Linked DNA regions of Homo sapiens: regions 1, 2 and 3 are each linked to region 4. Evidence: fine-mapped expression QTL. A gene starts in region 4. Each other region holds a variant in brackets. All regions are shown on one strand. Distances are between the middles of the regions.

The links. PIP is the estimated chance that this variant, and not a neighbour inherited with it, causes the effect. A credible set is the group of variants that fine-mapping cannot tell apart.
Region 1: its variant is the best candidate, but not a certain one, in a credible set for the expression of PDLIM5 in whole blood (TOPMed, PIP 0.85).
Region 2: its variant is the best candidate, but not a certain one, in a credible set for the expression of PDLIM5 in monocytes (Fairfax 2014, PIP 0.52).
Region 3: its variant is the best candidate, but not a certain one, in a credible set for the expression of PDLIM5 in monocytes (TOPMed, PIP 0.54).

What each region holds. Positions count from the first base shown.
Region 1 is chr4:94,646,370-94,651,826 of GRCh38, reverse strand. The region is part of intron 9 of PDLIM5 (PDZ and LIM domain 5); the gene reads right to left. Among named protein-coding and RNA genes, the nearest start is that of BMPR1B-DT, 110 kb to the left of the region's middle. The variant G/A (reference allele first, on the strand shown) is at 2,553.
Region 2 is chr4:94,603,741-94,609,197 of GRCh38, reverse strand. The region is part of intron 7 of PDLIM5 (PDZ and LIM domain 5); the gene reads right to left. Among named protein-coding and RNA genes, the nearest start is that of BMPR1B-DT, 150 kb to the left of the region's middle. The variant C/T (reference allele first, on the strand shown) is at 2,176.
Region 3 is chr4:94,664,413-94,669,869 of GRCh38, reverse strand. PDLIM5 (PDZ and LIM domain 5) reads right to left here. Exons shown (of 13, transcript NM_006457.5): 13 at 1,647-5,457. Among named protein-coding and RNA genes, the nearest start is that of BMPR1B-DT, 90 kb to the left of the region's middle. RefSeq lists an enhancer at 1-1,576. The variant G/C (reference allele first, on the strand shown) is at 2,863.
Region 4 is chr4:94,449,706-94,455,162 of GRCh38, reverse strand. It overlaps PDLIM5 (PDZ and LIM domain 5), which reads right to left and starts at 3,221. Exons shown (of 13, transcript NM_006457.5): 1 at 3,168-3,221. RefSeq lists silencers at 2,722-2,981, 3,152-3,571.

The DNA.
Region 1 (5,457 bases), 200 kb before region 4:
AGTTGTTGCTGGAGTGTTGTTAGATCTCATCCAGCGTCACTTTCACATGGTCTCATTCAGAAAAATTCCTCCCTGATTTCTGCAGCAAGAACTATTATGCTTTTCCTCAGCAGTAGTCTTATTTTTATCTTATTGTAAATTGCAAAACTACCTTTCATTTTTGGTAGACTACTAGAAGGCCTAAAGCCAGATTTACAGTCTAACCAGAGGCAAGTGGGCAGGTCATTATTTTAGTATCGTCCAGTCTCGACGTTAGCTTCATTTTTAACGAGCCTATCGATGAATTTCATTCTTTTTCCCCTTTTGTAATTTATAAGATTATCTTATATTTCACATACCTGTAAAAGTCTTTTTACAAACTTGCTGGAATATAGTTCACTATAAATACATAAATTAAAACTACAGTCCATTAAAAGGATGACTTTAAAATATTTCATTAGTTCCTTTCAAATAGCAAAAGGAATTTTAGACAGTAAAGAAATTCCCACTGCACCTTTAAAAAACAAGCTGAAAATGACCCTTGCTCCTCTCAGATCTCCTTTCTTAAACAAGCATGCTCAGGGCAACTACTGGCCTAACTTGATACTTCTTGGCTGTCCTGAAAGAGCATCTTTCTCCATCAATGCCCTTGAAATTATGCACAGATTAAACAATAAAATTAATCTTTCACATATAGCAAAGTGTTTTCTTCTCTGTGTCAGCAAAGACTAATTTAACAAATTCATTAACACAGGATTAACACTAAAGAAGTTCTTCTTGTTCCAGGTAGGATTGGGTTTCCATTTGTGAACAGGAATGACAGGCCTAGATAACTGCAGAGTGGAATTAAGTATTCAGCTATCTCTTCTAGTATTCGATGTCCTGTGAGCCCTTACTAAGTACATGTTGACTGACAAATGGAGGGAGAGGAGGGATTTAAAGCATTTGGTTGGCTGTGAGAGAAGAGCTACGGCATGAAACTTTTCACCCTGTTTATCTTCTGTGAGACCTATCCAAAAAGGCGGGGCATGTGGGGGGAAGAAAGGAAAGGTAGGGAAGGATGCCAAGGAAGAGTTCAGAGAAAAAGGAAAGCTTACAAATACAAAGGTGAAAGGAACTCAGATTTCAACAGGCACAACCTAACTGGGATTTAGCCTCAAAATCTGATGCTTATTTTTTGCTGCTCTTTGTTATTTAATTCTCACAATAATCCCAATGACAGAAATTAACTTTTTCATATACGTGTAGATGAAGAAAACGTCAGAGAAATCAGCCAACTTTCCTAAGATCATATGGATGACGAACTAACTGTAATACTGGAATTTTTCAAAGCCCAACCACAACAGATTTTATTCGACTGAAAATTACTGTATCAATAGAAGTAAAAAACAAGTTTCCCAAAGCTATAAAAAAACTGACGTGCTCAAGAATAAAAACAGAATCTGATATTCTACTTAGTTAAATATACTAATACAAATGTACAAACCACTTTTATGTTTTTGTATTTGCCAACATTGAGGAAGGGCCTGGCGTGAGCAAAGGGCAAAAGAACAACACAGCCACAGGAATAGAGTGAAATAGGAACAAGATAATCAGGAGAAACTGCACATAAATACATTCACAAACGATTACACACAAAGACACAAGCAGGAAGAGAGTAAAAGAGAAACACAGTGACTATCGTCTTAGAATACTCAAAACTGCAGACATTAACAATCCTTCCTAAAATTTGGAAACACTGTATTTGTCACTCTTAATTCTTCATTTCCAGTGGATTATATGCAAACTTTCCAATTTGGAACATTAAAAAGTAATTCTTTCGCTGAATGTCAACTTTAACTTTCAGTCCTTTAACATACTACATTTAAAGGGTTGTGAGGCCACCTATAGTTTTATATCTGAAAGGCATAAATGACTTGCTTCTCCAAAATAAATGCACAGGTAAAATGAGTTTAAACATAATAGTAAATAAAGAGAACAAGTTCTAAAGAAGGTAACCTTAATTGACAATTTTTTAAAAGTCTACTGGAGACAACTACAGTCAATTCTTTTTGAGATTATTATAAAATCTGCAAAGCAGGATAAATGTAATTCAATAATAAGACAAGTGAGATATAATTTCAATTTGGCAACACTAATATACATTCTACAAATATTTAAAAGTTCATCTATCAATTGAGCAAGACTTTACTAAATGCAATATGTGCTAGGCACTGTTCTAGAAACAGGAAATCTGGCAGGGAACAAAGCCAAAAAAAGCCCTGATTGCATGGAACTTATATGCTAACATAGGGCAGGGAGATGACAGTAAGATAAATAAAATATATGGCATGTTAGATATTAAAGGCTGACAAGAAAAATTAAGCAGGGAGGGCAGAGAGGAAGATGGTATAGGTAGGAAGTAGGGATGAAATGGGAGAATTTAAATAGGTGACCAGGAACACTCTGATATTTGAGTAAAGACCCTCTCCATGAGTGTGGGTAGAACCTGTGGCCATGACAGGGTATCACTCCTGTGATTAGATAACTGTAAATAGCAAAAAGGATTGTGCAGATACAATTACATCCCCTAG[G/A]CCAGGCATGGTGGCTCACGCCTGTAATCCCAGCACTTTGGGAGGCTGAGACGGGCGGATCACTTGAGGCCAGGAGTTCGAGACCAGCCTGGCCAACATGATAAAACCTCGTCTTTACTAAAAATACAAAAATTAGCTGGGCATGGTGGCACGTGCCCGTGGTCTTAGCTATTCGGGAGGCTGAGGCAGGGGAATCGCTTGAACCCAGGAGGCGGAGGTTGCAGTGAACCAAGATTGCGCCACTGCACTCCAGCGTCAGCAACAGAGTGAGACTCTGTCTCAAAAAAAAACCAAAACCAAAATCAAAAAAAAACAATTACATCCCCTAATCAGTGGATACTGTTAATCAAAAGACAGATCATCCTGGATGGGCCTGACCTAATCAGGTAAACCCTTAAAAGAAGTTAAAAAGCAACAGGAGAGGCTCTACTGCTGGCCCTGAGGAAGAAAGCAATCATGTTGTGAACTGTCTAAGGTGGGGACGGCCTATAAGGACGTCAGTCCCAGAGCTGCAAGGAACTGAATTTGCCCAACAACCTGCGTGGGCTTGGAAGAAGATCTGGATCTCTACATGATAACTTCAGCTCAGCTGACACCATGATTTCAGCCTGGTGCGATTCTGAGCAGGGTACTCAGCTAACCCATAGACTCATGACACAGAAACTGTGGGACACTGGCCGGGTGCGGTGGCTCACGCCTATAATCCCAGCATTTTGGGAGGCCGAGACGGGCGGATCACTTGAGGCCAGGAGTTCGAGGCCAGACTGTCTCTACTAAAAATACAAAAATTAGCCGAGCATGGTGGTGCAGGCCTGTGGCCTCAGCTATTCAGGAGGCCAAGGCAGGAGAATCCCTTGAACCTGGGAGGTGGAGGCTGCAGTGAGCTGAGATCCTGCCACTGCATTCCAGCCTGGGCAACAGAGTGAGACTCAGTCTCAAAACAAAAAACAAAAACCTGTGAGACACCTTAGTGTCATTTTTAGTAATTTGAGTCTTCTTTTTTTTTTTCTTGGTAGTTTAGCCAATGTTTGTCAATTTTGTTGATCTTTCCAAGGAACCAACTTGTGGTTTCATTGATTTTTTTTAAATTCTCGATTTCATTCATTTCTGCTGTAATCTTTGTTCTTGCCTTCCTTCTAAGTTTTGGACTTAGTTTGATCTTTTTCTAGAGTCTTAAGGTAGAAGGCAATGTTACTGATTTGAGATGATTCTTCCTTCTGAATGCAGACATTTGCCAGCTATCAATTTCCATCTAAGCACTGCTTTAGCTGCATTCAATAAGTTTTGGTATATTACATTTTCATTTTCATTCAGCTCAAAGTATTTTCTAGTTTCCCTTGTGATTTCTTTTCTGACCCACTGGTTGTTTAAGGAATGTGTTTTTTAATTTCTACATATTTGTGAATTTCCCAAATTTTCTTCTGTTATTGATTTCTAATTTCATTCCATTCTGGTCAGAGAGCATACTTTGTATGATCTCAGTCCTTTTAAATTTATTGAAACTCGTTTTATGACTTAACATATGGTCTATCCCGGAGAATGTTCCACATACACTTCAGAAGAATATATATTCTGCTGGATTCTGCTGTTGCTGAGTGGAATGTTCTATAGATATCTGGTGAAGTATACTTGGTATTTAGTGTTGTTCAAGTTTTCTAGTTCTTTTTGCTATTCTGACCAGTAATCAATTATATCTATTAATTAATATGGAGTGTTGAAGTTTCCAACTATTATTATTGAATTGTATATATTACTCCCTTCCATTCTGACAGTTTTTATTTCACTTATTTTGATGCTGTTAGGTAAATATGTGTTTATAACTCACATTTTCTTAATGGATTGAGCTTTTTATCATTATAAAATGTACTACTCTGTCTCTAGTAATTTTTTTTGTCTTAACATCGATTTTATCTGATATTAGTACAGTCATTCTCACTCTCTTTTGGTTACTATTTGCATAATATATTTTTTTCTATACTTTTACTTGTAACATATTTGTATCTTTTATTTTAAACTGTGTCTCTTGTAGACAACTTATAGTTAGATCATAATTTTATCTACCCTTCCACTCTCTCTTTTAGCTGGAGTGTGTGATATATTTATGTTTAATGTAACCTACTGATAAAGTAGGATTTATTAGTGGCATTTTGCTATCTATTTTCTCTATGTTGTATGCCTTTTTTGTTCCCTTTCCTACATAAAAAAGTGAAAGAGGAATCAAAGTCATCAGCTAATAGTGAGGATGGGAAAGGAGATTTTAGAAGTTTGAGGAGAAAGAAGATGTGAAATGGGTTTTTTGGGGAAAGTGGGAAAGTAAACATATTAGAGAAACAGCAGTCTTTCATTACTATTAAGAATATACCCAGGGAAAAGAAGGAACATACCTGAGATTAGTAGTGATGAATTTAAAAGGAGACTGGTTAGTGTGATTGTGGGATTCCTTCCAGTCACACCCATCATTCGGGTGTGAGCACGGGGTAGACTAGAAATATATACCATGGTGCCAGTATGGTAACTTGCATAGAAGTTTTCAATGGACATTTGTTGTACAAAATATTCATTTGATTATGAATAGACTTCTGAACCTTACTGCTTTCCATTCTTTTCAAATAAAATAAATTGGTTTGTTAAAGTTGGATAATCCTTACCTCTCCTTTTTGCACTGATGTAATCCTAGATGCATCTCTGTTCGACTTACCATATTAATTTGGTTGTTGATTTGCTTGTCTGTATTTTTTATTAGACTATAAACTGAATTAGTTTGCCAGGACTGCCTTAGCAAAGTACCACAGACTGGGTGGCTTCAACAACAAGAATTTATTTTCTCACAGTTCTGGAAGCTAAAGTTCAAGACCAAGATGTCAAGAGGGCTTCTCCCCTTAGTGTATAGATGGCCATCTTCTCC
Region 2 (5,457 bases), 150 kb before region 4:
ACAAAGTAATTACGTGGCAAACTCGACCTCTGGTTAATGTGAGCTTAGATGTCTGAAACTGTGAGGGTTGACATAAGTCTCTTTTTCCTGTCAAAAGAATTTGATAAGTCATTCTTCCAATTTCCACAGGCTATAACTTTACAAAAACGATTAGAAAAAAAATTAAGGAAATAGTTGCAAGCTATGTTTTCAAAATGATACAGAATTAAGTAATTTTTCTTTTGGTCTATCTAAGTCTATCCATTAAATTAAACTGTATGGCTAAGTTTTAACAACTGTTAATGAATGGTTAGAAAAGAAAACGTCAGGGTCTGGAGAGAGAAAAGAAAGATGTTATCAATGGCAGAGCAGGGTAGGTAACATGAATGTCAAAGGGAATAATAAAGTTATCATGTGATTCCACTTCTGAGTTTCTGCATTACTCTGCATCTCTGAGACAATGGTTACTATTTGGAGACATAATGGTGAATAATAAGAACTAGAAACTTAGTATATTGAAAAATCACTTAAAAATAAATCAGCTAATTTTTTCTTCTCCAGGAAGAAAAGGAAACGGTAATGAATTTCTTTCATCATATTGCATCACAAATAATAGAAAAGGATTTAGTATCAGCAGAATCTAGTTATATCTCATAAGCAGTTACTTATCTGAGTATCTTTAGAATATGTCTGGGCACCTGGTAACATATTGTGTATGACCTTTACCTGTCTTTGAGGCAAATGCTCTAATTCAGAAAAGGAGACTTATGACAAAGCCAGCAAGTTAACTTTCCAAATCACAAAGTGAATAAATGAAAGAGATTTCTTGATTCTATATTAGAAGTTATAAACTAAACAAAAATAAAAATATAAAAGCAGTGAGAAGCGCTGTTTTGAGGCTGAGTGCCAAGCTTTCTTGTCTATAGGTTAATGATGTCCGTTCTGTAATCAACAATCATTTTTTCTTTTTCAAACAGTTTAGTATATTTAAATTCACTACCAGCTTTGAAATTTAGAAACACCAAGAAGGAAGAGTCTACCTAGAATAAGTAGTTGCTACTTTAGAAAGTGTGGCCACTTGGCTACCAATAGTTAACACCTGAGGAGTTGCAGGAGGGTGAGGTCCACTCTTAGGTAGGTCTTCCAGAGCACTGTCAAACCTAAGTTTTCAGAAGTAAAATATATAAGGCAAAGGAAATATTAATGAAAAGTACAAAAGACATTTATCATCTATACCATCTTTTAAATGTCTACTAGTTCAATTTTGGGAACACTATTGGTTTTCTTTTACTTCACATCTACAAATGGTTAAAACAAAACCCAACACTTCTGCCACCACAAAATATGGGCTGTTTTCCCCCAAAATTCTTTAATATGGCTACTTCTATGTAATAAAATATTACGCTTACAGGGGAAAAGGAGGTGGAAATTCCCATTCACTGACTACGTGTTTTGAATGCTTTAAAAAAACTTAGGCTCCAAGAAGTTAATTAAGTTGCCCAATACCATACATCTAGTAAGGGCCAGGTGGAATTTGGACCAGGTCTGCCTGTATTATTTCCACTATATAATGTTTTCCAGAACATTGTGAGACAGCTACCTAAAAGTGTCCTACAAGAAAGCAACCAAAAGTTTCACGTCAGAATGTTCTGTCTGTAGATCTGAAGTTATATGGATGTTGTGTATCTTGATGTAAACAAACTATTTTATCTGCTCATACAACAGATGGTGGCATGCAATCGTAGGGTTTTGAGTATTCTTTACTTTAATTTTCTGATATCTGTATTATTTTTTATATAGAATGCCAGAAGTAAGTTCTAGAAGAACTATTGCCAGGTAAAGAAAAAATGAAGAACTCAATGTTAAGTTCAAAAAAAAGAAAGCACCAAGTATAAAACTTTGGGAAGAAAAATAAAACAGGAAAAATACAAAATTAGCCATTAAAAAAAAAAAGTCTGTGGATAAAAAAATAGAATGGTCAGTCATGTTACACTGATTTTCAAATGGATTAAAAAATAGGAAAGGAGAGGTTATATTCCTGTTTTTTATTTCACATTAGTCATACCTTTACCAGAGTGTTGAAAAAACGTAGACAGTTGAAGAAAAATGTCATGATAGAACTAAAACATTAAGAGGTAGAGCAGAAAGGTTAAGAGACTAAGAAATATAAGAACCATAACATGGGTCAGCAAACCA[C/T]GGCATGCTGGCCAAATTCAGGCCCTGCCTGTCTTTGTATGGCCTAAGAATAGTTTTCATATTTTTAAATGGTTAATGGTTAAGAAAATCGAAATAACAATACAATGACACACAAAAATTATATAAAATTCAAATTTCAGCATCCATAAATAAGGTTTTATTGGAACTTTATTGGAACATAGCCAGGTTCATTCTTCATATGTCTATGGCTACTTTCATATGATATAAGAACTGACTAACTGTGACAGACCATATGGCCTGAAAAATCTAGCACATTTCCTATCTGGACCTTTACAGAAAAAAATTTGCTGACCCCTGTCCTAGAAAATAACTTCTCTACACAGCTACCAGAGTGAACTCTGAAAAATACAAATGCCATCATGTCTGTTGCTTAGACCTTCCAGCCCTGCTCTAGGTGATCTTGGGCTACCTGTTCTTCAGCATTATGTCATGAAGCTTGTCCACTCTCTTTGGCTTGCTCCAGTCCACTGGGCCTTCCATCTCTTTTTGAAATAGGCCCTGCTTCTATCCCCCTCCTGGCCTCTGCACAGTCTCCTACTCCTCACTGTCCTCAGCCCTCGTTCTACCACACCCTCACTGGGATAACTCCAAGGCATCCTTCTGGCCTCAGTTTAAATGTCACCTCCTCCCAGAAGCCTCCCTGATTCCCCAAGCCACCTTAGCTGCCCCTGTCATGTGCTGTCATAGCAGTCTGTACTTTTCACTCATATAATTTGTTATTATTATTATACAATTTGTGTCGTTATTTGTTTAAATCCAGACAGTCTCAGAAGACTAGAAGCTCCCTGATACCAATAGTTACTGATATACATGAAGTGTAACAAAGTGCTTACCATAAAGTTAACAAATATTTGTGAAATAAAAGCTTGAAATTTATTTTTTCCAAATAACGAATTCACAATATTTGTAAATTGAAAAGTATTTGTACCTTCTAGAGACTGTGTCACAATTCTGACTAAACAGATTTTTGCCTAAGTGGACACATGATAACTTGAAAGAAATGAATAGTGCTCCCAAAATACCTTTAAATAAATATTTTAATATTAAAAATTTATAAATATTTCAGGAAAAAAGAAAATATGGTTATAAATTATTATCAATATCTACATATTACCACAGGACAGATTAAAAAAAAAAAGAAAAGGGAGTGAGTTGGAGAAGTTGAGTCTTCCAACATCTCCGTGAAATATGCTGATTGGAAAAAAGCTGAGTGCCATTTGAGAATAAATTTCATATAAATCATGAAATACCTTTGAAGATGATCTCCAAGTCATCTTCCAAGCAAACGCACTTGGGAAGTTTCCCATGTGTTACACGTATTGATTATCTCTTCATTGCTTAGCCAAACTCTAAAAACCTGACTTAAGACAAAATCTTAAACTACCTCATTTACTATGGAACAAACATCAGTATCTGTTCTCATTCTGACATTCCCCAGTGTTTACTCCTTTTAGGTTGGAGGAAGCTCTGATTAATAGCATATCTGCAGCAGCCAAATTTTCTGCCTTGTCTTGCTTAAATGAGTTTTCATTTCTCACCAGAGAGGGTTATGAAGACTTCCTCTTTCCCAGATAAAGTCTTTCCCTTTTGGCTTGCTTTTCTCAGGATACATGAACAAAGAGCTATTCATGCATTGTGTCTATTTCTGCACCATCTCTGCACTTGTTCATTACGGACCCTTGTGAACAATCTGTCCAGCAAATCAGGTGTGAGTTGTCCATCTACTAATTTACCATCCTTACCATCCTGTAGGACCAGTAAGAAGAATTCTTTTTCTATCCCCTAGTCCGGACAACTGCCCAAGAGCAACATTCTAATGCTGTGTACTCCATCTCCTCCCTTAATCTCAGTGGCCTCGATTAATCCATCTCTCCTTCTCTACTGGATGCTTTGTGTCCTCTTTTAAAATGCAGTAGTTTCTCTTAAAAACAACAGACTATCTTTACTTTCTATTTTCCTGTTCCACTTACCAGCCAGACTCTGAAATAACATTATACTCACTTGACTGTCAGTCTTCAGCCATCTCAACTAGACCCCAACCCCCAACACTCTATGAAACTGCATCTTGCTAAGGTCACTGATGACCTTCTTGTGGCTAAATTCAATGGACAATTTGCATTCCTCATTTTAAAAACTGTGGTAAAAAATACATAACATGAAACTTACTATCTTAACGATTTTCAAGTGCACAGTCAGTAGTGTGAAGTACGTTCACATTATTGTGGAAGAGATCTCCAGAAGTTTTTCATCTTGCATATTCGAAACTCTATACCCATTGAACAACTACCCCTTCCCCCTCCCCCTAGCCTGTGGTAACCAGCACCATTCTACTGTTTCTATGAAGATGACTACTTTAATTCTTTTTTTGGAGACGGAGCCTCACTCTGTCACCCAGGCTGGAGTACAGTGGCACAATCCCGGCTCACTGCAACCTCCACCTCCCTGGTTCAAACGATTCTCCTGCCTCAGCCTCCTGAATAGCTGGGACTACAGGTACGTGCCACCACGCCTGGCTAATTTTTGTGTTTTTAGTAGAGACGGGGTTTCTCCATGTTGGTCAGGCTGGTCTCGAACTCCCGACCTCCAGTGATCCGCCTGCCTTGGCCTCCCAAAGTGCTGGGATTACAGGCGTGAGCCACCACACCCAGCCCGAAGATGACTACATTAGATACCTCCTAAGCCTGACCCGAAGATGACTACATTAGATACCTCCTATCAGTGGAATCATACAATATTTGTCTTTTTGTGCACATTCCTCATTTTACTTAGTGTCTGGCTCAATTGACTACTGCTTCTCTTTTCCTGTCATTTGTGCCTCAACCCTATTTACCTGCCTGTTTTTAGTAGTATTTCACTGGCTATTCTGTTGCCCGAGAGTTCTCTGTCCTAGGCTTTATTTCTCTGTACTCTGCTATCATTAGTACAGTGACATTACTCTGTCCTGTAGCTTTAACACCACCTAATGTCCAGATTTATATCTAGCCCAGCTGTCTCCTATGAGCAGTAGCCCATATTTTGAATTGCCCTTTAGTTATTAATACCTCTAATATCTCTCTGTCTCAAATCATCTTTCACCATGTCCAAATGACTCTACTTCCAAATTTATATTTTTAATCTATCAGTGGTGTGATGGGTCCCCTACCAGGTTACTTAAGGGTGTTATATTCAATGCTTGAAACTTGAGGGCCAGGCAGTTAGCTAAGGCCATGGTGCCTAGCCGAGAAGCAGGGGTCCCTGAGAACGCAAACATCCTGAGGCATG
Region 3 (5,457 bases), 210 kb before region 4:
TTCTTGGCAAACTTCTATTTAAAAGGGCTCCCCTAGTGCTCTACCTTTAGCGAAAATCACAAAATGCATCTCACTTTTCCCCAACCCTGTGTTCAAGGTATGAAGGCTACACCTTTCTTATTAATCATTGATGCAATCTTGCCACCTACCCAGACAGATTCTAAATCACAGAATCAAAAGTTCTGTAATATAATACTATAGACAAATGGTATACAGTCCTGTAAATTCTCCTCAGAAAATGAATAGTTTGGCAAATCAGGCACTTGCCGCATTAAAAATAATATGCATATCTCCATATACGATAAATACACAGGCAACATTTGGGCCCGGTACTTACTGAGTTAAATCCTCTCATTCATACGTACAACACAAAACCATATCAGTCTGAGATTTCTGTTAGGTAGCCATGTGTCCTAGCACCTTTCCTCTGTTAAATTTTAAATACTGCAAAAGAACCATTTTCCCTGGGAGGCTCCCACACTTGGGATGAAACTTTCTCTGCGGAATTTTGGCACCCTATTAATTAGTGGTTATGAGTGGGAGCTGCTCTCTCTCAGCAACTCCTATTCTGCCATCAGTCAAGTGTGATTCTGCAATAAATTTCCACGAAGCAAACTATTTCTGGTAATTCTCCCTAATTAACACCAGGCCTGCTAATAATACATCAGTACCTATGTGTTTCTGATATAACCAAGATCTTGTCTGAGCATACCCAAAAAGGGAAACCGCCAATCCAAATTAAGCTTTTGCTGGCAAAAGGATTTTATATGTAGTTCTGTAAGAAAACCTTTGATAATCTTATATTGGGGACATTTCGACTAGAAAACACTGAACGACAGGGAGGCTTGCTCTGGTTTGAGCACTGAATGGGGATTTATTGTGAACACACGGTTGAGACTTAAGCCTATAAATCTTGTACTGGATTACTGTTTCTTAACGAAGGAATGACAGATCTCTTATTTTGTCGGTGCATTTTAATGTGCAATGACGTGATTGATAGAAACCAAACAGCAGCTATTAAAATGTCAGATGCAGACTTGATGCTCTTAAAAGTTTGGCTTCTGGAGTTTAATATACTGTGAGCAAATAGACTTGAATTTCTCTTTTATTCCCAACATAGAGCGTGCAACAGAAACATCTGTCTTAACTTTATACAGTTGGAAAAATATCTTAAACTAATAAACAAATGAGGCAGAGGTGAGCCTACCTAGTTGTGGAATAGTCAGTTAATGAGATTGAGATGAGTTAAGCATCCCAATATCTAATGCAAAATGTGGAAATATGGATGATGATTTATGTTCTTTGATTATGTTCTAATATGATGTTTGATATGACAGGTTGTTCCAATAAATCATTTCAGCAATAAATATTTTCAAAAGACAATAGACCTTATTTATCTATTAATTCATAAACATTGGGTACATTCTACATGCACGGCATAAGAACAGAGAGAAATACAATAAATGTGACAGTATTTTCAAATATTTTGTTTCTGAGACATTTTGATAAGCAAATATCATACTAGAAGGGTTCTTCTGAGAATTATTACATCCTATCCTAACCTGTGAATATGGAACTTGATTATTTTCCCATGATGACTTGATGGAAACCACTCGCCAACCAACAACAACAAAAAGGAGAGCTCATTTACAACAATGCAGTCATTTATTTATTGAGTATGTGCACATTATGGTATTATTACTATACTGATTATATTTATCATGTGACTTCTAATTAGAAAATGTATCCAAAAGCAAAACAGCAGATATACAAAATTAAAGAGACAGAAGATAGACATTAACAGATAAGGCAACTTATACATTGAGAATCCAAATCCAATACATTTAAACATTTGGGAAATGAGGGGGACAAATGGAAGCCAGATCAAATTTGTGTAAAACTATTCAGTATGTTTCCCTTGCTTCATGTCTGAGAAGGCTCTCCCTTCAATGGGGATGACAAACTCCAAATGCCACACAAATGTTAACAGAATACTAGATTCACACTGGAACGGGGGTAAAGAAGAAATTATTTTCTATAAAAGGGCTCCTAATGTAGTACTGCTTGAAAATGGTACATTTTTGTTGTAGATTATTTTAAACATAATGCTATAGTAATATTTTGAAGATTTGAGCTGTTATTTCCATTTGTTTTTACACTGTGACTAAATGATTAGGTTTTAGTTTTAGACTCTAAACGGAACCTGAATTAATAGGAAATAAACACGGTACTATAGTTGTCCTATGGTGCCCCTATGGGTGATGGGTTCCAAGAACCCCCTAGGATACTAAAGTCCATGATGTTCAAGTCCCTTATAGAAAATGGTGTAGTATTTGCATATAACCTATGCACATCCTACCATACACTTTAAATCATCTCTAGATTACCTATAATAGCTAATACAATGTAAATGCTTTGTAAATAGTTGTTATACTATATTGTTTAATGACAAAAAAAAGTTTGTACATGTTCAGCAAAGGCGCAACCATCCATTTTTTTCCCCAAATATTTTTGACCCACAGTGGGCTGAATCACAGATGCGAAGCCTATGGACATGGAGGGCCAACTGGACAAGCATAAGCAGGGGATACTTTTTAGGTTGCTACTTCAGCAGGCAACATTCAGACCATGGAAGTCTAGAGAAAGATTATAAATCTGAACTTACCGCTAAAAATTTTAAAATGGGAAATAAATCCAAGGAGTTTTTAGTCATGCATTATGATTTTAATCTATGTTATGCCAAGTACAGCATTCCAAAATATACATCTAGAGACTAAAAGTAAATGCTCTATAGTGAAGAAGTAATAATTAAAAAATGCTACTAATATAGAAAATTTATAATCAGAAAAATAAATATTCAGG[G/C]AGCTCACCAGAAGAATAAAGTGCTCTGCCAGTTATTAAAGGATTACTGCTGGTGAATTAAATATGGCATTCCCCAAGGGAAACAGAGAGATTCTTCTGGATTATGTTCAATATTTATTTCACAGGATTAACTGTTTTAGGAACAGATATAAAGCTTCGCCACGGAAGAGATGGACAAAGCACAAAGACAACATGATACCTTAGGAAGCAACACTACCCTTTCAGGCATAAAATTTGGAGAAATGCAACATTATGCTTCATGAATAATATGTAGAAAGAAGGTCTGATGAAAATGACATCCTTAATGTAAGATAACTTTATAAGAAATCTGGGTCAAATAAAATTCTTTGAAGAAAACATCCAAATGTCATTGACTTATCAAATACTATCTTGGCATATAACCTATGAAGGCAAAACTAAACAAACAAACAAAAAGCTCACACCAAACAAAACCATCAACTTATTTTGTATTCTATAACATACAAGACTGTAAAGATGTGACAGTGTACATTATATGACAATGCACATTAGCCAGCAAGTCTTTTATAGGTGGTTTCAGCAGCAACGATAAATAATGCAGAATTCAGCTCCAGCACTTTATTTCAAAAGAAATTTCCTGCCTCCCTCCAAGATGCAGGGTGAGGAGGTAGCTTGGGGTTGCTATTGGAGAAGTATTCAGTTTGCTACTTTGTGTCACCCCTTGCCATTCTTTTATCCCCAGTTAATTATTATCTGCATATAATATAAATCTGCTAGACCATAAATTAACAGCTTTCAGGACAGATGCCTTGAAAGTTCTTAGGGAGGTTAAACAAATATTGTAGCCTAAAACCTCCTCTATAACAAACATGCACACAATGGAAGTGATGTCGTAAGTGAGTGATGGGGCAGGAAGGACCTAGGGCTCTGTCTCGACTATAAAATCACCTTGCCCCAAACAAATTTAAATTATAACTTAGGAGGTTCATGGACTTTCATCCATTCTGGAAACAAAGAGAAAAACCAAATCAAATACCAGAATCTGTTTTCTCACTGGGCAAATAGCAACAGGATCCACAGTTTTACCACAATTGTTTCCCTGTCTCCATGTGGTATCTACATAATTCTTTTCCCAAAGGAGGAAATCAAATAACAGGCCAATCTGAGTAATTAAACTCCCCTCCCAACACTACCCAACCTCTGTGAATAAAAGCTTTCCAAACTTTGTGATCACATTTGAAATTGGTTCACTTATTATTGAGAGAAAACCACAAAAAGTCTCAATTTCATCACATCCTCAAACCAATCTTTTAATTTTTAAATGCAGAAGAAGAAACAAAACGAAACAAAAAGATCATTCTGCAAAGAGACCTCTCAACTCTTCATCAGCCAGTGGCATAACTCAGAAACTGATTTAACTAATTTATTATTTGAGAAAAGGGGATTGAAAAACAATTGGGGGGTATAATCTTCTGATTCACAATTCCCAGCCACATTCTTTTCTATTTATTCTCTCTCTCTCTTTTTTTTTTTTTTTTTTTTTTTTTAAGAGCCGGAGTCTTGCTCTGTCACCAGGCTGGAGTGCAGTGGTGTGATCTCAGCTCACTGCAACTTCCGTCTCCTGGGTTCAAGAATTTTCCTGCCTCAGCCTCCCAAGTACATGGGACTACAGGCACGCCCCACCATGCCCAGCTCATTTTTGTATTTTTAGTAGAGACAGGGTTTCACCATGTTGGCCAGGATGATCTTGATCTCTTGACCTCATGATCCGCCCGTCTTGGCCTCCCAAAGTGCTGGGATCACAGGCGTGAGCCACCACACCTGGCCCTCTATTTATTCTCTTTAAAGAGAGAGAAAACTATGAGAGGCCAAAATTATTTAATTAAATCTTTACCTTAGCACAAGGGAAAAAAATGGAATTTGCCTAATATAGGTGATGAAGCATACACAATGAATAGAAACAATCACATTTTAGTAAAAGGCAAAAATTTGAGACTTATAAGCTATATGGTAGCTTATTTTTGGGTGGGGAAGAAATGAGAAAAGAATATAACATCTCTTACTGGCATGACACATTTTGATAAAAAATCTTATTGTCCTTTCCTACTAGAATGATCCACTGTAAGGCAAAAATAATATACAAGCAAAGTTTTTTTTTGGAGACAGAGTCTCACTCTGTCACCCAGGCTGGAGTGCAGTGGTACGATCTTGGCTCACTGCAACCTCTCCCTCCCGGGTTCAAGTGATTCTCGTGCCTCAGCCTCTTGAGTAGCTGGGATTACAGGCGCGTGCCACTGCGTCCGGCTAATTTTTGTATTTTTAGTAGAGATGGGGTTTCACCATGTTGGCCAGGCTGATCTCAAACTCCTGACCTCATGTGGTCCACCCACCTTGGCCTCCCAAAGTGCTGGGATTACAGGCGTGAGCCACCGCGCTCAGCCTACAAGCAATTTTTTAAAAACTGACACCTATTACTGATAAAATTCTCTGTTTAAAATCCTATTTACTATTTTAAAGATAAGTATTAGTTTTTTTTTAAATACAATAATTCTGTTATTGATAAAATTTAAGGCATTTTCATTGCCTTTTGCAGATTTACTCATAACTACCTAACAA
Region 4 (5,457 bases):
GGTGAGAGGATATAGAAGATAAGTCTTAATTAAGTTCTTCATTAATTTCAGTTTAAGAAAAGCAATCTGTGAGCTAATATAAATTTTCTACACTCATGGCAATTTCCATGGTCTAAAAATTCCATATCAGAATACATTTCTAGACACTTAGTATGTTTCACAACTTGCTTCAATCCAATTTTGTGGCTTCTTGCATGCAAAGTTTAACTCAAAGTACTTTACAATACTTCACTAATGTAGCAAGATTTTATTTCAGGTTGAATTCAGAATAATTTTCTCCTTCCCTCCACTTCATGTATTCTTTTGTCTGCAATTGACAAGAGTCTTTCAACTGCACTTACTTAAATTCTAAGTTACTCTAACATGTGAAAGAGACTGCAAATCAGTAGGCTCCCATTCATGCTTTCCAAATACTAAATTCTTTACAATGAGAAGCTGTTTTTCAATGCACAAAACTATTCTCTCCAATCATGAACTACAACTTGTATTTCCTCCTATGGGGACATGGTATTTTCCACACTTAAAGTGATATCTACTTTTCCTTCAGATAGTCAACGATAGGCAATACTCTAGTACAGTGATGTTAGTCACAACCTGCTTTTTGTTTTATACACACACCTCACCAGGCAGAGAGTAAGCATTTGCCACTCAGTGAATAAGATTATGACTAAATACAGCAAAAGTGCTGGGTTAATGCATTCAAATGGAATTGGCAGTTTAGAAAAGAACCAGTGCTTCGGTGCTTTCTTTTGTCTGTTCTGCTGTTAAGTGTGCGTGTGATGACTCTCCTAGTAGTACTTTCATATAATTTTTAAAAAGCAAAAAAAAAAAAAAAAACTTCGAGTTTCCTATTGGTTGTTATAACGGCAGGAGACAGAGGAATGAAGTTTTCTTTTGTTTTAATGGAATACTAAGAAACAATAATTCTCTCTCTTTAAAAAATATTAAAAACATAACAGATATGTAATTTTATATTAAAAACATACTTCCTTGGAAAATGTAAGCTATTCAACCAAATCACCACCTAATATTACCTGTCTTAAAATATGTTTTAACCCATTCAAAATTTCTAGCCCATCACCCCAAATTCATAGTTGCAGATATAGATATTTGAGCCATAGGTATATTTAAAGCAAACATTCCTTCTTCTCATAAAGGGAAAATGGGGCAAAACATTCAAATAAGCCTGGTTTTTAAAGAAAAATTATATCAGGGAAAATAAAAATTACAGAAAATTGTATCAGAAACCGAAACAGCTTTTCTACTGGCGTGGTAGTATACTGAACTACAAGGCAATAACACATTACTTCAGTAATGAAGTAATAGGCACAGAGCACTAAAAAAGATCCAAAGGCCAAGCCGGAAGTCAAACTGTATATATAGGTGAAAAACTACTAGTGGGAAGCTAATAACGAGCCACACATAATTCAATTGCTTTCCCGCTATAAAAGGAGGAGATTTTCAGAAAACTAATAGAAGGACTGTCCTGATATTGACACGATACAAATCAGAATCGTGTAAAGCCAACTGATATTTCACAGGCAGCCTGCCCTCCTTTATTAATCTTTAACTTGTGTCTGGGGAATAATATGAAAGTTGGGCTCAACTTCCTCTGGCCCCATTCTTCCCTACAAGAAAATGTATTTCATTTAGATTATCAACCCATGTACTTGCAACTTCCCTTTACTTGGGGATTCCCTTCCTAACTTCTCTCATTTGTTATTAAAATTCCTAGCACTGGCAAGGTCACAGCCACACTACAAAACCAGTGTCATTTCATTTCTAGTCACTGTCCGTTCATTTCTAGATGCTTCTTCTGCTAGCTTCATTTGGAATTCATCTGCCTTAAAACAGTCTCTGCCCCAAGCAATGGCAATATTTTTATTGGCCTTTCCAAGACTCCTCCATCTGGTTATTAGTGCCCAAGCCCTTCCTCAAATACCAAGCAGGCAGGAAATAGCAGCATACTCTTTCAAACACGTCGAAAAGGTTGGAATTTCTGTAGAGTTATGGATTTTCTTTTAGGGAAAGTCTAAACAATGTCTTTGCTCTAGTACTAGGGAAGGAAGCTTGGTATTTCCCACACTTGTATCTCAGCTTCATTAGTGGGTGAGAGGGGAGAAAGGAGAACTCAAGATGAACTACACAGAGTGACAAAAAAAAAGGCCTGAAATTAAAGAGAAATATCTTGAGATTCTCTTTCCCCGCAATGGAGAGAGAATGTAGGTAGAGCTGAAGAACTAAAGCCACAGGCACAGGATGAAAGCAGCCGACAGGACAGTTTTCCAGGAGGGATTCGCGCCTAGCCTTGTTGGCCAAATAAGGCTACCGAACGGGCCGTTTCCGTGGCAGGCGGGTTCAGACGTCCTCCCCGTCAGGAAGGCGGACTTGGGATAGGATCTGGCGATCACACCCTAAATCTGCCCTGCCCAGCGCCGCCACGAATTTTCCTTCCAAGCTCTGCCCTGTCCACACGCCCTTCCTTTTTCCACTTATTGTAAAACGCACCGAAGGCACAGTCTTACAAAAGCCCCAACAAGTACTCAAGTGTTAACAAATCTCGTGTTCATGACAAATGTGTTTCTTAAACGAGCTTTATTTCTGGACGCGCAGAAGTTTTCCCCAAACAGGTTACACAAAACTGTAAATATCTGGGGGAGAAATAAATGCTTCTCAGTAGCCTGGGAGCAAAGAAAAACTAACGCGCCTTTTCCTTTGAGTCCCGCTTCCTACCCTCCAAGAGACTGGCGCAGGACTGGGCACTCAGACACCACACCACGGTGGTGCCGGGCGACGCCGGCAGCCGGGTGGGTGGGAGCGGCAGTGCCCGTCCCTGCCGGCCCTCGCCACCTCCGGGCGCCCTCCCGCGTCCCCGTCTCCGCTACGCTGGTCCCGGTCGGCCCGGGCTGCGGGGACCCCAGGGCTCGCCCTCTGGCCTCATGCGGACTCCAGCGCTGCCCTTTTCCGGGCGCTCCTTTTCCCAAGCTGCTCTCCCACCTCCGCCGCTCCGCGCCCAGAAAGCACCTGAGGAGCCATCCCTGCCCGAGGAGCGCCCCCTCCTCGTCCCCAACCGGGCTTCCCTTCTCGCGTTCGGCGCACAGCGGCCGGTTCTTTCCCTTCTCCCACCGGAGATCCGAGAGGCGCATCGCCGGCCGGCCGCCACTCACCTCGGGTCCGGCGCGGCGCGGGGCTGCCTCCGCCTCAGACAAGGGCTGACAAGTGACTCGCGGTGAGGGCGCCGTCCCCACCGCCCGCGGGAACTTCCGCCTCCTGGCTCTCCCTCGCCCCACCCCCGACCCAGGACACGCCCCTCCGCTCCCGGCCACGCCTCTGGGCCAGTCCCAGCCGCGCCGCGCAGGGGCGGGGAAGGTGGCGGCGGCGCCGGGCGCTCGGGCTTGCTGGGGCTGGCTGAAGCAGCTGCGGAAAGACAACTGCGCTACCGAGTTTCGGTGGGAGTAGTCTTAGCGGATTTTGAGCGCTACCTGGCAAAGGTCTAACCCTCCGCTCGTCCGTTTTGTAGTGGGTGCATTTTTCTCTCCAGAAATTTAAATTGGCAAGCAGTTGCTCTGCCTAAAAATAGAAGGGTACTTTGGATAAATCTCTATCTATGCAAGTTCAGCGGTTACTGCCTGCGTTTTTTTTTTTGAAAGAGCTTTACATGCTCTGAAAAGTGCAGACCCAGAAGTTTACCTGTCAGGAAGGTGAAAACCAGTAACCCTAACAGAAGTTAACCCTGTCCATCACACCAGAAGACAGTGATACATAAAAGCGGCCAAAAGTGATTCAACCACTGTATCTTCAGTTTATTTTTCTAAATCCAAATCAATAGTCCACTTTCCAGCCTTCTATAGGGTTGCTTGATACGCCCGAGGAATTTATTCATAAGAAAACGTGAATAATGTTCACTGAACATACGGAAAGTAACTAGACTGTTACACTGTGAATTGGCTTATAAAACGTGAAAAGGACAATTCTTAACCAAGGAGCATATAAAGCAAGGATGAACTTCATGAGGTCCGTGAGCTCCCCGGCCCCCAGAAGTGCAAGCAAAATTCCAAAGGCGAAGATCCAAAGCTGCTCTTTCCCTAACGGTAGCCACTGGCCACATGTGGCTATCGAACAGTTGAAATGTGGCTACTGTAACTGAGACCATGAATTTTTTGTTTTACGTAATTTTAAATAATTTAACATTTAAAACTGAAGCAGGATAACATTTCTTTACTTTTTTTTTCTTTGAGACGGATTCTTGCTCTGTCTCCCAGGCTGGGATCAGTGGTGCAATCTCGGCTCACTGCAACCTCCACCTCCCGGGTTCAAGCGATTCCCCTGCCTCAGCCTCCTGAGTAGCTGGGATTACAGGCGTGCGCCACCACGCCCGGCTAATTTTTTGTATTTTTAGTAGAGATGGGGTTTCACCATGTTGGCCAGCCTGATCTCGAACTCCTGACCTCAGGTGACCAACCCGCCTCGGCCCCGCAAAGTGCTGGGATTACGGGCATGAGCCACCGCGCCAGGTCGTTAACATTTCTTTTAAGCACTACATTTAAGGACTAAAGTTGAAAATATAATGCCCAAATTGAAATGCGTTGGAAGTGTAAAATGCACACTGGATTTCGACGACTTGGTATGAAAAAATAATGTAAAATGCCTCAATAATTTTTATATTGATTATATGCTGAAATCATCATATTTTATGTTTTGTTAAATGATACATGATTATGGCCGGGCGCGACGGCTCACGCCTATAATCCCAGCACTTTGGGAGGCTGAAGCGGGTGGGTCACCTGAGGTCAGTAGTTCAAGATCAGCCTGGCCAACATGGCGAAACCCCGTCTCTACTAAAAATACAAAAATTAGCCGGGTGTGGTGGCGCATGCCTGTTATCCCAGCTACTTGGGAGGCTGAGGCAGGAGAATCACTTGAACCCGGGAGGTAGAGGTTGCAGTGAGCCGAGACCATGCCACTGCCCTCCAGCCTGGGCGACAGAGCAAGACTCCGCACCAAAAAAAAAAGAGTAATAATAATAATATTTGATTAAAATTAATTTCACTTTTTAAAAAAAATGTGGCCACTAGATAATTTAAAATTACTTACGTGAGCAGGGTGCAGTGGCTGACACCTATAATCCTAGCACTTGGGAGGCTGAGGTGAGAAGATGGCTTGAGGGCAGGAGTTTGAGGTTAACCTAGGCAACATAGCAAGACCCATCTCTAAAAAAATCCAAAAAATTAGCTGGGCGTCGTGTAGTGTGCCTGTAGTCCCAGGTCCCAGCTATTTGTATTGCTGAGCCCAGAAGTTCGAGGCTGCAGTGAACTATGATCTTGTCTTTGCACTCCAGCCTGGGTGACAAAGGAAGACCCTGTTTCTAAAAAAATAAATAAATAAAATTACATATGTGCTTCACATTATATTTTCATTGGACAGCACCAGTCCATAGCTTTCACCACATTTTTCAAA